Regions from separate parts of the Homo sapiens genome. Here region 1 is linked to region 2. A link means that fine-mapping ties the variant in region 2 to the expression of a gene that starts in the linked region. Tissue or cell type: coronary artery. Region 2 holds a variant in brackets; the other region holds the start of a gene. All regions are shown on one strand. Distances are from middle to middle.

What was found. PIP is the estimated chance that this variant, and not a neighbour inherited with it, causes the effect.
Region 1: SLC25A43 starts here. The variant in region 2 is fine-mapped to the expression of SLC25A43 in coronary artery (GTEx, PIP 0.93).

What each region holds. Positions count from the first base shown.
Region 1 is chrX:119,395,011-119,403,117 of GRCh38, reverse strand. It overlaps SLC25A43 (solute carrier family 25 member 43), which reads right to left and starts at 3,782. Exons shown (of 5, transcript NM_145305.3): 1 at 3,440-3,782. The coding sequence starts at 3,714. RefSeq lists a silencer at 3,259-3,918.
Region 2 is chrX:119,477,114-119,485,220 of GRCh38, reverse strand. No RefSeq gene overlaps it. Among named protein-coding and RNA genes, the nearest start is that of SLC25A5-AS1, 12 kb to the right of the region's middle. RefSeq lists enhancers at 2,494-2,543, 2,594-2,693. The variant A/T (reference allele first, on the strand shown) is at 4,715.

The sequences.
Region 1 (8,107 bases), 82 kb after region 2:
AGACCCTGTGTTAGTCCTCAGCATAGAGCCTAAGGGAGTTCAACACTTCTGACAAGGAAATGACTGGTAGGGGCAAGCGGAGAGGAAACAGGCCCTTAATTCACTGAATGACTTGATGAACTAGGAAGAGGAGCCGTATTTTATATCAGTTTCTTTTATAGAGTCTCAATATCAAATATACACAATTAAAAAGAAGAACCATAGGAAGTCCTTTTTTCGCAGACTTCTCCCATCTGATACAGAGATAAGTCCTATCAATTGTTCCCCTTAGAATCTCAGAGTCAGGGCAGGCAACCCTGATAATCCGCCAATGATGTCATCTCAGTCCATGCATCTTAAACTTTTGATTTGCTAGGGCGGCACTGTTCCCTTTTCTGTTCTTCCTCCCACCCCCACACATACATGCACAGAAGCTTTTTCCAGTGAGACTGGATACACTGGTGAATTGCAGCAACCCCTTCCTTTCAGCCAGCACAGATACAACACACACCCTGGATATGTGTAATTATAACTGCCAATACTTCAACCTAACAGGTTGGCAGCCAGTGCAGCCAAACATAAGCTCATGAAGTGCTTATTCAATAAAGAAATAGTGTTGGTTATGAACAATTTCAGAGCTGCAGGGACCCAAACTAACGTTTATTAGATAAGATAGACAAGCGGTTGTGAAGTTCCAGGGCGGGGGGGTCTTCTATTTGATACATCTGAAAGCCACCCATTACAATAACCTAGCTCCCAACAGACTACTGAGTGGACTCTTGATCGTCAATCCAACTAAGCAGATATTTCTGCTGTGCAATGGTAGACAGAGACCTGAACTAAGGAGCCAGAAGACTTGGCTTCAAGTTCCAGCTCTTCCATTAATTGCATTTGTGGACAAGTCACTTAACTACCCCATTCCCTGAACATTCTGGATGTTTATGTTTTGTTCAAACCCATGATCACAGGCCCCCAGCCAACTGTTTTGCAAATTCATGGTCAGAAAAGAGTAGAAATGAATCAGTATAATGATGAATCAAGAGTATCATGTTGATGTAGGAAGGATGGCATCGCGATTAATCAAACACTTTGCTTTCCAACTATGCCTTGCCATTCACCAAAATACTTCCTTTTAGTTTTCAGAAAGAAAATAATCCTGTAGGGGAAAAAAAATTCCTAGCAAACCTAGCCCAGGTAAGTCTCTGTTCTCGTTCTCCCAGACATCTCCTCCTCTCTGCTCCCATGGTCACCTATTGCCGGTGCCCTCAGCTGCTATGTGGACTAGTGCAACAGGTTCCTAACTGGCCCTGCTGTCTCCACTCTTCCTCCTCTCTAGTCATCTTACTCTGCCACGATGTGACGATCATTTCCATTGAATTGCTTTAATCACAACACACCTCCCCCCACCCCCCACAAAAACCTCCCACAGCTACCCTTGGATACCAAGTCAAGTCCAAATCCCTTAATCCAACCCTCTAATATCTCATTCCAACCTGCTTTTCTGGTTGGACTTCCTGTTGTGCTGCTTGCCTTCCCACCTCTGTGCATTTGCTGACATCAACTGCAGTATCTTTCTCTCCATCTCTGCCCAGCAGACTCCTCATTCTCCCAATGCCAAACTCAAATTTTTTTCTCCTCTATGAAGTCTTCACATTTTCTCCTCCTCATCGCTCATCAGAAGGGTACATTTCTAGAGCACATTATCCATGACAATCACATGCTACCTTGTGTGTTATGGTCATGGACATATTAGTCTTACTCTTCTATTACTCTGTAAGCTCCTGGGGCACAGGGACCATGCCCCTTCCATCCTGGCATTGTCCTCAGCATCGTGCACACAGTGGGGACTTAATGTAGCCTGACTAAATTAGTGTCAAATGGATGCAGGGAGGCAGCATGATGTAACAGAAAGACTATGAGATTTGGAGTCAGAAGGCCAGGTAGTGGAGCTCAGCTCGGTCACTGACAAGAGGTGTCATCACTCTGAGCCCAATTCTGCATCTGTAAAACAGGCACAATGCTTCCTGTCCTATGGACCTTACAGGGCAGGAGGCAGGAGCTTAAAAAATCTAATGTGCATATACTAGGTGCTTAGCAGAAGAGCCACAATACTTAAACCAGCCTTTGAAGTTCTGCCCCCCACCCCTCTGGACATATTTTATCCCATCCAAAGGAAGATTTCCACACTACTTTGTAGAGAAGAGGGTGAAGTGGGGGAGAAACTGAGTCATTAAGACTCAGAGGAGAACTGTTTACAGACTGCAGGCCAGATGTTGATGAGGGCAAGCAGAGGTGGGGAGGAAAAAGGGCCTTAACTAAATGTCATGGTCCCACCCATGAGTCCCTCTGCAGAGGAAGAGAAGGGAACTCTATTTCCAGGCAGAGGCAAAATGAGTACTGGCCTAGAGGCCTAGGTAATAAGGATGATTCCGTTCGGCTTGTCGGCTGCCAGGTGAGCCTTCCACCTCTGGCCTCCCAGGTGAGTGACAGTGTCAAGGCAAAATCCTTTGACTATTAGCCGCCAAGACTAAACTATGCGGTCAAGACCGACTCTCCCAAATGTGGGCTGTTTGTCTAATTCAGAGCCAAGGCGATATCAAAGATGCCACTGTGCCCACTGAATGAGGAACACAGGGACCGTCCCCCCAATACAGAAACATCTCTGCTTCCTGAAATGCCATCACTACCAATTCATTCTTTCAGGCTTGGTTTCCAGTTCAAATGCAGGTACCTCTGAGCTCGGTGGAAGCTTTAAGGCTGCATTTACACCTTTAGATCTTTTCCTAAGGAGCAGCTGTTGATGTGGGAGAAGGTGGAAAAGGCCCAAATAAATGAGGCCAGTGGGGTGAAGCGGTAGGCTGAGGGGGCCGTTCTCAGCTTGGGGAGGGGAAGCTGCAGCCTCTGTCGGAGCCTGAAGTCAAGCTTCATTTAAGTTGGGGAGATGTGTGGGCAAAAATCTGCGGCCTTTTCGTATCGATGGATCGGGTCCTTTCCCCACACCAAGCACTTTCTTCTCGGGGCTTGGGTCACACAGACAAAAACACCTTTAAAAGGGTCTCTCTCTTCCTAAGCCAGCCTAAGCAAAAGTTTCCAAATTGGAGGACGGTGGAAATGGTTAGGACTCATCTCTCTGGAGAGCTTTTCATTCCTTTCCTCCAAATCCTTTGCTGCATTCCACCTCCTCGCCCGGTCCAATCCGGAAAGCCTCTCGGACCAGGGCTGCGGACCACAAAACTGCATCTTGCAGGGCGGTAACCCCAAGAGAACGTGAAAAGCATTGGGGCTGCACTCTGGGGGCCATAGAGGTGGCCCACCGCCCCGAGGGGTCCCCAGGTGATCGACAAGGGGGCCGTCCCTACTCCAGGGCCCCGAGTCCAGGCAGCAGGGCGGCGTCGGGCCGCGGCTCCCCCACCCCACCCCCGTCCGGTCTCCCGGTTCCCCGGCCCCGCCCGGCTCTTACTTGCGGTAGGCGGCGAGCTGCACGGCGCTGCAGGGGAAGAGGCGCAGGCACGCCACCGCGTTCCCCTTCCACAGGGCCCGGAGCCCCTCTGCCCGCCACACCCGGTGCCCTGTGGCCCACGGTCCCCGGGCGTGGCCTCGCACGACGCCAACCTGGGCCAGCACGGTGGCGAGCTCCAGGGGCGCGGTGAGGCTGAGGCTGAGCGTCCCCGCCAGCCCAGCGCACAGCAGCCTTTGGCCGCCTGTCAGTCGGCCGTCCCGCCTCCACGTAGCCATCGAGCCCCGACCCGGGCCCGGAAGACCGCGTGGCTCGGGCCTGGGGCTCTCCGGCCACGGGCGGAGGTGGCGGGCCCCAGGCCCCGCCCGGCATGGGGCGGGCCCGCGTGAGGGACGGGAAGCCCCGTCTACGCCCTAGCCTGGCCCGAGGCTGGTCGGGGGTGGGGCGCGAGGGCCTGGAGGGTCCGGGGTCCGAGGCCGCGGATATCATGGGCATAGTCTCCCCAGTTGGCAAGGCTCGAGTAGCGACTTTCAGTTGCGAAACAGTTACTGTTCTCTCAAGGCCCAGCCTGCTAGACATCTTGCTTCCTAAATGTTCAGTGCGCCCCCGCCGCCCCTCCCTGCCTCTCCTCTGGTTTGCCCCTTTTCTCCCTTTCACGTGCCACTTCTCTGTCTTCCTCCCCTGGCGCTTCCCTCCTCCTCCTCTTGCCTCCAACCCATTTTTTTTTCCTGCCTAACCAAAAAGCCTTGATGGTTTCCCAGTGCAGAAGGTAAAAAATTCTAACAACCACAGTTGCTATCTCTCAGGCACTTGTCAAGTACTGGGCTTTACAGACGTTCTCATGTAATCCTCAAAACGGCCCTAAGTACGTATGTCCTCATTGACAGAGGCTGTGTGGGTGTGGGGACTTGAATCTGGACTCTTGAACCTGTGTAAGATTCTTGGCTCTGCAGCTTACCAGCTGTGGGACCTTGGGGAAGTCACTCAACCTCTCTGTGTGTCAGTTGCTTTATAAAACAGAGATTATAATTTTTTCCTCCTAGGGGTTGTTGTAAGGATTAATGAACAATGACTGGTATGGGTAAGCAGTTTATATGTGTTAGTTCTGATTAGGTATTCATTTACAGGAGAGGAAACCAAGACACAGAGAGGACTTGCTCAGGCTCACACAGCTACCTACAAAGCAGAGACCGGTTTGAAATCTAGGGCGGTTTATGTCAGTTTCCACTAACGGCTACACTATATGTCTACTAGGACTGCAGAGTTAACTCCAGTAGGGACATTTTCAGTGGTTCTGTAAGCTAAGAGAACAATAGAGGCAAAGAATGGCTAAGAGAGGCTTGGCCAGAATCCGAGGATTCTTTAATCAGTTCAAAAATTTCAGAATTTCAGAATTTCTTTCTGTCTCTTTTTTTTCTAAAAAAGCCATGTCACTAATAATTACAAGGAAAGGAACTGTCAGCAGTCTGTTGGTGTGAGCAAGATGTTCCGGGTACATAGTTGTTTTTAGGCTTGTATAGTTATTTACATTTACTAACACACAATGCTATAGGAACGTTTTCTAAAAGGCATTGCAGGGTTTCTCCTTTTTTATTTTTCACTGTCAATCTCACTTGAGTATGACATTACAAGGTTTTGACTGTGAGAACTTGTTCTAGTTGCAGAAGCCATACTCTGCTCTCAACAATTGGGGAATGCTTATTTTCATGTTTTGTGAATTCTTCTGTCTTGTTGTAAGCTAATTTGATGGCTGGGGGAAGCTTGAGAAAGATGTATGACTCTGAAGACCGGAGGACCCCGACTTTAAAAGGGCTTGAATTGGAATTTGGGGATTACAATAAGGAAACCTTCGGGTACTGGTACTTCCTAAAGCCCTTTGTTGGATAACGGGACAAGATTCTAAAGCTCTTTCAGGAAGTTCGTGGGTCTGGAACATTTCATGTGATAACCCCATTGTATGGAGATTGGGTCAGCCAAGTTATGTTTTTTTTTTTTTTGAGACAGAGTCTCGCTCTGTCGCCCAGGGTGAAGTGCAGTGGCATGGTCTTGGCTCACTGTAACCTCTGCCTCCTAGGTTCAAGCGATTCTCCTGCCTCAGCCTCCTAAGTAGCTGGGACTACAGGCATGTGCCACCATACCCAACTAATTTTTTTGTATTTTCAGTAGAGATGGGGTTCGCCATGTTGGCCAGGCTGGTCTCGAATTCCTGACCTCAGATGATCCACCTGCCTCGGCCTCCCAAAGTGCCGAAATTACAGGCATGAGCCACCGCGCCTGGCCTATTTTAACCTTGAAAGTAAAATGTATGGCCGGGCGCGGTGGCTCACGCCTATAATCCCAGCACTTTGGGAGGCTGAGGCGGGCGGATCACGAGGTCAGGAGATCGAGACCATCCTGGCTAACACGGTGAAACCCCGTCTCTACTGAAAATACAAAAAATTAGCCGGGCGAGGTGGCGGGCGCCTGTAGTCCCACCTACTTGGGAGGCTGAGGCAGGAGAATGGCGTGAACCCTGGAGGGCGGAGCCTGCAGTGAGCCGAGATCACGCCACTGCACTCCAGCCTGGGTGACAGCGAGACTCCGTCTCAAAAAAAAAGAAAGTAAAATGTATATTTTTCACTGCAGGTACACTGAAGCATAAAATGAATAACACCAAACTATATATTGGATGCCTTCTGTCTTTTCATGATCATGTGCTAACCAGGTGTTCATATTTTACTCAGCCAGAGTCTCATTCATCTGCTTAGCATTGGGCACCTTATGTATATTCATCCTAAACATAAATAAATCTCCGAGGATATCCTGTATTTGGATTGTGACTTGTATACTCAAGCCAACCTTATTGCCTCTTTTTCACACTTGTTGAAAAGTCTGTGGAGAGCATAGTAGGTTAACAAGCTCCAACTTTGGAAAATGTACATGATGTGAAATTGGGGTGCTATGCTAAAAATAAATGTATGATAACTAAAAAGGAAGAGGCAGTGAGTAAAAAAAAAAATCTTAGAAGTTATGTTGCAATATAAGGAGAAAGGTGGCCAGCTGAGAGTTAAGCCCTAGGCAGCCTCTCGTTGCCCCAGTCAGGGCTTGGGAGATGCTAACAGTTTTTTAAATTCTCCAGCTTTCATTTTTCAGTTTATCTTCTCACCAACTGAAATCTCTCAGTACATTACTTTAGTTTAACTTGCTAGTATTTCTTAGAATATAATTTATCTTGTTATATTTATACTAATGTTGATTGATTCCTGCTCTCCTAATTTTCTTTTATTTTTTACTTTTTGGGAAATTTGTAAATTATAAAGTAGTTTATACCTGTTGTAACAAGACAAATAGTCCAGAAGTGTATTAAAGAAAGTTAAGTTCCCCTGCCCATGCCCTGAGGTAACCACGGTTAAGAGCTTGGTGCGTGTGTGAATGTTTTTCCTCATATTTTTTTTTCATGCTCAGACCAATAAATATTTATATGGGGTTGCTTTCTCCTCCTTTCCGCTCTTCCCTCCTTCTTACCTTCCTTCTTTCCTTCCTTTGAAACAGAAAAGAAATAATTCCTCTGGAAGGATACCCAAAAAACTGATAATCAGGTTATCTTTGGGGAAGGAAACCTGGAGACTTGGGAACAGAGGTGGAAGGGAGATTGAGTTTTGACTGTGTGCCCTTTTATTTTCTTTTATTATTTATTGATTTATTTAGTTAGTTTTGAGACAGAGTCTCGCTCTGTTGCCCAGGCTGGAGTACAGTGGCACGATCTCAGCTCACTGCAACCTCTGCCTCCCAGGTTCAAGCAATTCTCATGCCTCCCCAGTAGCTGGGACTACAAGCAGCCACCACCTCACCAATCTAATTTTTTTTTTTTTTTTTTTTTGAGACGGAGTCTTGCTCTGTCACCCAGGCTGGAGTGCAGTGGCGCAATCTTGGCTCACTGCAAGCTCCGCCTCACAGGTTCATGCCATTGTCCTGCCTCAGCCTTCAGAGTAGCTGGGACTACAGACGCCCGCCACCGCACCTGGCTAATTTTTTTGCATTTTTAGTAAAGACGGGGTTTCACCGTGTTAGCCAGGAGGGTCTCTATCTCCCGACCTCGTGATCCACCTGCCTTGGCCTCCCAAAGTGCTGGGATTACAGGCATGAGCCACCGTGCCCGGCCCTAATTTTTGTATTTTTAGTACAGACGGAATTTCACCATGTTGGCCAGGCTGGTCTCAAACTACTGACCTCAAGTGATCTGCCCCCTTTGGCCTCCCAAGGTGCCAGGATTACAGGCGTGAGCCACCGCACCCAACCCTGTGTGCCTTTTTATACTGTTTACCTTTTTCTCCTGTTTTTTTTTTTTGTTGTTGTTTTGTTTTGTTTTGCCGTGGCCATGTATCATCAATTTAAAAAATTCTCTTCTCCATCAATTTTCTCTGAAGGTGCAGTGTTTTCTGTGACATTGCCTTGCCATTGGTGAGATTTTTTTCCTTTTAATGACACATCTTTATTTCCTTGGCAACTTTTTTTTTTTTTTTTTTTTTTTTTTTTTAGATGGAGTCTCACTCTGTTGTGCAGGCTGGAGTGCAGTGGCGCGATCTCGGTTTACTGCAACCTCTGCCTCCTGAGTTCCAGCGATTCTCCTGCCTCAGCCTCCTGAGTAGCTGGGGTTATAGGCGCCCACCACCACACCCGGCAAATGGCTAA
Region 2 (8,107 bases):
TGGCACTCTTAACTCTCATGTTTATATATGGATCCTATCACTCAGGAAACATTTCCATTCTCCTCAAGAAACATTAACTGGGTGCCTCCTATATATTTTAGCAGTGGTAAACATAATGAAACTTTGTGGTGCCTCTTTCAGTTACAACAGCTTTCATAACTATTTTATCATTTGGTTTTCACAAAACACCATCACTTCCATTTTATGCTTCAATTTAAAAAAATATAATGTATACCCCAGCTAGAATAGCTATTGTCAAAAAGACAAAAAAAAAAAAATGCTAGGGAGGATGCAGAGAAAAGGGGACTTGTACATTGTTGATGAGAATGTAAATCAGTACAGCCATTATGGAAAATGGTATGAAGGTTTCTTAAAAAAAAAAAAACAAACTACAAATAGGACTACCATATGATCCAGCAATTCCACTCACTACTGGATATATACCCCCAAAAAGGAAATCAGTGTATTGAGATACCTGCCTCCCCATGTTTATTGCAGCACTATTTACAATAGCTAAGATATGGAATCTATCTTAGTGTCCATCAATGGATGAATGGATAGAGAAAATGTCACACAGACACAGCAGAATATTATTCAGCCATAAAAAAGAATGAGATCTTGTCATTCATGACAAGATGGATGAGCCTGGAGGACATTATGTTAAGTGAAATAAGTCAGGCATGTTCTGCATGTTCTCACTTATATGTGGGAGCTAAAAAAAACTCCTGAGCTCATAGAAGTAGAGAGTAGAATTATGATTATTAGAGGCTGGGAAAGGTAGAGGGGAGGGGAGGATAGGGAGAGGTTGGTTACAAAGTTACAGCTAAATCGAAGGAATAAAGCTGGGTGCAGTGGCTCATGCCTGTAATCCCAGCACTTTGGGAGGCTGAGGTAGGTGGATCACTTGAGGTCAGGAGTTCGAGGCCATCCTGGCCAACCTGGTGAAACCCCATCTCTACTAAAAATACAAAATTAGCTGGGTGTGGTGGTGAGCGCCTGTAATCCCAGCTACTCATGAGGCTGAGGCTGGAGAATCGCTTGAACCCAGAAGGTGGAGGTTGCAGTGAGCCGAGATGGCACCACTGCACTCCAGCCTGGGCAACAGAGCGAGATTCTATCTAAAAAAAAAAAAAAAAAATGTGTACTGTTAAAAATGTAATTTAAATTACTTACTTCATGGATAAGTATGTTCTCATGAACATTAAAACATTATAAATCTGGCTATCATTGTAGATCTGACCACCGCTACCCTACTCCAGACTCCCTCAGAGATACAGAAGAGGAAACTGAGACTCAAAGAAGTGACATGGTGTGCCCAAGGCCACACAGCTAGTGCCTGTGGGGGATTTTCTGATTCTAAATCTCTCTCTGTTTTTTTTCTTTTTTGAGACGGAGTCTCACTCAGTCGCCCAGGCTGGAGTGCAGTGGTGCAATCTTGGCTTACTGCAACCTCCACTTCCCGGGGTTCAAGCAATTCTCCTGCCTCAGCCTCCCAAGTAGCTGAGACTACAGGCATGCGCCACCACGCCCTGCTAATTTTTTTTTTTTTTTTTTTTTTTTTAGTAGAGACAGGATTTTACCTTGTTGGTCAAGCTGGTCTCGAACTCCAGACCTCAAATAATCCACCCACCTTGGCCTCCCAAAGTGTTGGGATTACCGGCGTGAGCCACCGCGCCCAGCCTGACTTTAAATCTCTTGCTATTCTAATTTTTCTACACTGCCTCCCATCACCACAAGAATCCTTTCTATTCCTCACTGTGTCCCTGGTGCCCAGCACAGGGCTCTGCACCAAAGCTGGGGCTCAGCAAATATTTCCATATCAATGGATTCCCTGGCAGAGGGTTTCCTTTGCACGAAGGCATTGCCTTCTGAGGTGGGCTACACCGACCTCATTTGGTCAGTGAAGGCTCGAAGTGGCAACTGAGGCCATGCAGGCATCCTCCCAGGTGTCCCTTCTGCCACCCCAGGGCTTGGCGACATCAGGGATCCTGAGAGTCTCCTTTGGGAGCCAATACAGTGAGACCCAGTAGAGGTACACCAGGTGTTTGCTGGGCACACGCTATGTGGCTGCCGGTATGCCAATGGCCGTGTGTGACTCGGGGGAGAAATGCAAAGTATGATATTGTTGAGCCAAGATTTGTCCCATACGTAGGACACAGTGACCAGCCAGCACATATCCAAGTTCTAAATTATGCAGTGCTGATGATGCTTTGGGGGTTCAGGGGAGGAAGAGCTTGGCTGGAGCGGCCAGGGTAGACTTCTTGGGGGCGGTGGGTTTAGCTGAGCTTGGTGGAAAGCGGTCTGCGTGGAGGACACAGCTCTTCCAGCGGAGTCGGCCGCGGTGCCCAGGCCGAGGCGAGAAGCAGCGCGCCCTCTGCAGGCAGGTGCGAGAGGCGGCCGGAGACCCGCCTGGGCACGTGGACTGGAAAAGGAAGGAGTCGGCCATCGGCTGCTGCCGCTGCGGCTGCGCTGCGACTTTTTCAGCCTGTCTGTCTCAATCCAGCCTTGCACTTCGGCGACTTTCAACCGCCATTAGGCCTGCAAAAGCCGCGTTTTTTCCCTCAGGGCGTGCCCTGCCCTCCTCTCTCCTAGTTGTCTGCAGCTCCCCGCCTGGCGGGCCGGGCCATTTCCTTCTGCTGCTACTCGGCATAGTCCTAGCGGACTGTTTTAGCCACCGCGCTGAGAGCGCTCTTTACAAAGTTTCCCAGATTACAAAACCGGCGCCTAAAGGGAAGGGGCCGACTCTGAGAGAGCCCGTAGTTATTTAACAAACACTTAAGCGCATATTATATGCTAGGCTTTGTGCCAAGCGCCTCGCAAATATTAATTTATTTCATCCTCACTACAGTGCCAGGCAAGTAGTGTTCTTGACCCCATTTTCCGGCTGAGCAAGGTGAGGCAGTGAGACTTAGAATCTTGCTCACCATTTCACAGCTGGAAAGGGGCGGAACCATGCTCTTAACCACTGCACCAAGCGCCTCTCCAGGGGCTCCTCACATGGGTAGGTCCCCAAGCAGGCCGATGGTCCCTAAAGAGCTTGAACCCCTCCCTTCCTCTGGGCCTCCGTGGTTATTTTCCAGGCACCGCAGCATTAAGTGCTACTTTCTGACTCTCTCTAAGTTGGGGGGGGGTTCCCTTTGTTTTCAGGGTTTTCATCTGCAGGTGTTACACGTGGTTTGCCAGGTGCCTCGGTTTCCTCATCTGGGAAATGGTAATCTTAGCACCTGCATCATAAGGCCACTGAAAGGATTAAATGAGTATCCACAATTAAAAGAGTGCCTGGCCCATAGTCAAAGCTCAAGAAATGACAATGGATGTTACTACTGAGCAAGTCCGCTGCTGCACTCCTGGAGGCCTCCCACTCACAAGTGAGAGAGAACAAACTCTGCCTGCTTCCTGAGCACGTCAAAAAGGGCCACATTCACTCAAGGGTTCTCATGGGCTTTTAGTGGCTGAAATAGTCTTAGAAGCTGGGAACATTAGGCCCAGGTCTGGGAGCAGGTCTGGCCTAATCAGCCCTAATCAGTCACATGGGCGTGCAGTTGGCACAGCTCTATCGGCAGCGTCCTCAGGTGCCCCAGGAACATGTCTGTTCCTCTCCCCTTGGAGTGGCCTGAGTCATGTTGTGTGACAGCCACTGTTCAATATTGTCATCATCACAACCAGACATCCATCAGGCAATTACTATGTGGAGGGCTCTGTGTTAGGGGCTCATGACAAGATGGCCAGCACATGTGTGGCACAGGCCAGCATCCCATGAACACAGTATGGTAGAAGCCCTGGATGTGGAGTCAGCTGTTTTTCACACAGATTTCAGGAGGGGAGGGGTGTGTGCCAAGGTCCCGCCTCTCTGGTTCTCTAGCATGGACAACATAGCAGCAGTACAGGAACCAGTTGATTTCCCAACCCCTGCAATATCCAGATCTTCCCTGTAAGCCCAGGGTCTGGAAAAACAATAGCTGCAAGTCAAAAGGCCCCGGACATTTGCTGAATTATTATGTAAGAAAATGAAAAAGAAAGGCCCTGTACATTTATTGCTACAGAATTGTTCCCAGGTATCAAGTGGCTGGATCGAGCCAAAATTCATTCATGCCAATCAATAACCAATGCACAAACCCTACAACATGCCATTCATTCATTCTCTATTTATTTCGTTATACAGATATTTATTTATTTATTTTTGAGACAGGGTCTCTCTCTGTCACCCAGGCTGGAGTGCAATGGCTCGATCTCGGCTCACTGCAACCTACACCTCCCGGGTTCAAGCCATTCTCCTGCCTCAGCCTCCCGAGTAGCTGGGACTACAGTGCCCGCCACCACACCTAGCTAATTTTTGTATTTTTAGTAGAGATTGGGTTTCACTATGTTGGCCAGGCTGGTCTCAAACTCCCAATCTCAAGTGATTCGACTGCCTCGGCCTCCCAAAGTGCTGGGATTATAGGCATGAGCCACTGTGCCTGGCTATTTTATTTATTTATTTATTTATTTATTTATTTATTTATTTATTTATTTAGAGATAGAGTCTCTGTCGCCCTGGCTGGAGTGCAGTGGTGCGATCTCAGCTCACTGCAACTTCCACCTCCCGGGCTCAAGCGATTCTCCGGCCTCAGCCTCCTGAGTAGCTGGGACTACAGGCATGTGCCACCACACCCAGCTAATTTTTTGTATTTTTAGTAGTTACGGTGTTTCACCATGTTGGCCAAGCTAGTCTCAA[A/T]CTCCTGACCTCAAATGACCCACCCGCCTCGGCCTCCCAAAGTGGTGGGATGACAGGTGTGAGCCACTGCACTTGGCCCATTTTCTCATTTATCTCCTCCTTCAGCAAACATTTACCACACATTCACTATGTGTTAGGTTCTATGCTCAGTTTTAGGAATGTAAAGAGAAACGAGACATAGCCCTTAATGAGGACAGACAAATAAATACTTGGTTGTGATACCATGAAATAAACATTATAATTCATTCACTTAACAACTATTTCTTGAACATCTACTATGTGCCAGGCACTGTTCTAGACACTGGGGACACATGAATGAAACAGACAAAATATCTGCCTTTGTGAAGCTGACAGAGATAGATTACTTTAGAAGTACAGAGGAGAGAGCAATGAGTATGGGCAGGTGGAGTCTGGGAAGGCTCCCAGAGGTGGTGCAATCTGAGCTGGGTCTTGAAGGATCATGCCCTGGCAGAGGGGCAGGTAAGGGCATGCTGGGAAAAACAATAGTACAGCCAAGCTTGGAAATATGAAAGTGAATGACATAGGTAGGAAATGGCAAGTGGAACTGCAGATCACGTGCAGGAGGAGGAACAGAACATGAGGCGCACAGTACTGTCTCTCAATATAAGGTGCAATCAGATAAAATAGCCCAAAGCCCAACTCATTGCATTTTTCTTTTTCTTTTGTTCTTTTTTTTTCTCGAGACGGAGTCTCGCTCTGTCGCCCAGGCTGGAGTGCAGTGGCGCAATCTTAGCTCGCTGCAAGCTCCGCCTCCTGGGTTCACGCCATTCTCCTGCCTCAGCCTCCCAAGTAACTGGGACTACAGGCACCTGCCACCATGCCCGGCTAATTTTTTGTATTTTTAGTAGAGATGGGGTTTCACCACGTTAGCCAGGATGGTCTCGATCTCCTGACCTCGTGATCTGCCTGCCTCGGCCTCCCAAAGTTTTTTTGAGACTGAGTTTCACTCTGTCACCCAGGCTGAAGTGCAATGGTGCGATCTCAGCTCACTGCAGCCTCCGCCTCCCGGGTTCAAGCGATTCTCCTGCCTCAGCCTCCTGAGTAGCTGGGATTACGGGTGCCCGCTACCACACTCAGCTAATTTTTGTATTTTTAGCAAAGACGGGGTTTCACCACGTTGGCCAGGCTGGTCTCGAACTCCTGACCTCAGGTGATCTGCCCGCCTAGGCTTCCCAAAGTGCTGGGATTACAGGCGTGAGCCACTGTGCCCAGCCTCACTGCATTTTTCTGAGAGCCAACCCTGGTTAGAGGTAAGGGTGCGGCCAACACCAACTCCTCCTGTGGTTGTTAGTTGGTATGGGCCTTACGCAAAGTCCTAATGACCCCAGCCTCAGGCTTGTAACCTTAGAGAGAGGCTCAGTATTCCTTGTGAAGAGCCGTCATTTAAAAGGAAGATCTGTCTTGGAAAAGCCAAAGAAATGTGAATAAATTCAAATTTAACTCTAGAGCTTTAGGGTCAAGTAGTTTTTAATGACCATAATTCTTAAATTGGCTGAAAATAGAAAATAACCCATACTCTAAAAATGGACTTTACAAACAGTGCTTTGGTTATTATAATTTATTTTTTCTTTTGTTATCTCTTTTTTTATCCAACTGAGGTTATTATAATTTCTATTTAATATTTGTCAAATGGATTTTGTCAGTTGGTATTGAAACTAGCCGGCTTTCATATTTTAATATAGTTCATGACCCAAAATAAATAGTTGGACAGGGTCACCTTGAAGTTCTCTTTGAAACCTTTTGCCGAGTCAGATAGCTCAGAGGACATTATCTCATCTCTCTAAGCTTCGGTTTCATAGCTGTGAAATGGAGTGAATAATAATACCTGCCTCTTAGGGCTGTTGAGACAATAGGGACAGTTAATCCATGTAAAGTGCTTAGCACAACATCTGGCATATAAGATGTCAAAATAATGAGCTATGATCTTGATTCTGTAGTTTTAGAGAAATTACTGTTACCTGGTTGTATCGATTGTTTAACCTGAAGACGCAGGCTTAACTTAATTCAATCTATCTAGCCCTAGAAACTCCAAAAAGAACCACAGCCCACAGTAGATTTGAGGAATTATATTGTAGCTTAAAAAGGAAAGTTGATTTCCAGGTTTCCTGGTAGACAAACTGAGCCACTAACTAGTGACGGGATGTGATATGACCCAAGACAAAGAAACATGGAGCCGAAGTGGGATTACAATTTCAGTGGTCAAACTCCTAGCTTTCTACCCTAATTGGCAAACAGCACGCTTTTACCCAGAAGCCCAAGCGTCCTTACCCCCTGATCTTCACTTCTGGGATAAAGCCATTATGAAGCTCAATTTTTGTAATAAATGGACTCCTGAACCCTGGACTTAGTTGTGAAAGTGAAAGGAGATCCTTTGCTTCTAAAGGTCTCAGTAAATTTTCTCCTCCCTGCAGCTTCTTTCCCTAGGGAGTGAAGTCATAGGGTTGGGTAATCAGGCTGGGACCTCATGGGTTCCTTGAAATACTACGAGAGCAAAGGAAGCTGTGAGAAGAATCCTGGTGACCACACAGTGGCCCCTGGGTCAGGTGAGCAGTGCAGTCTGGTTGTGAGGCAGGACGGATTTATCTTTGACCTTTGGTCTCTTTCATAATCAGTGTTGTAAAATAAGTGCTCTGAGTTAGAGCTCAGGATTATCACCATAAGCACATGTTTCTATTCATTCAGTCCATTCCAAAAATGTCCTTTTCTTTCTTTACAACCTTCTCTCTCTCTCTCTGTGTGTGTGTGTGTGATCCACTTTCTATAGTATATATAGCATTTTCTTGAGACTGTTTTAGAAAATCTGCAGGAAAAGGATAAATCCATTAAACCATTCTCCCATGAATGAAGTGAAAATAATTTAAAGCATTTCAATAAAACAATAACAGTCGGGCCAGATGCAGTGGCTCCTGCCTGTAATCCCAGCACTTTGGGAGGCTGAGGCGGTTGGATCACTTGAGGCCAGGAGTTCGAGACCAACCTGGCCAACATGGTGAAACCCCATCTCTACTAAAAATACAAAAATTAGCCAGGTGTGGTGGCTTGCACCTCTTGTCCCAGCTACTCGGGAGACTAAGGCAGGAGAATCGCTTGAACCTGGGGGGTGGAGGTTGCAGTGAGCCAAGTTCGCACCACTGAACTCCAGCCTGGGTGACAGAGCAAGACTCTATCTCAAAAACAAAAACAAAGCAATAACAGTCATAATAAGAGCAAAATTGTGTAAAGCAGGTGCCCAGCATTGTTCTAAGCACTTTACATATATTAACTCCTTTAATCTTCACACTATTCCTATGAGGTAGGTACTAAAGTTATCCCCATATTCCACATGGGGAAACTAAGGCACAAAACAGTTAAGTAAAAGTTGAATTGTTGTCA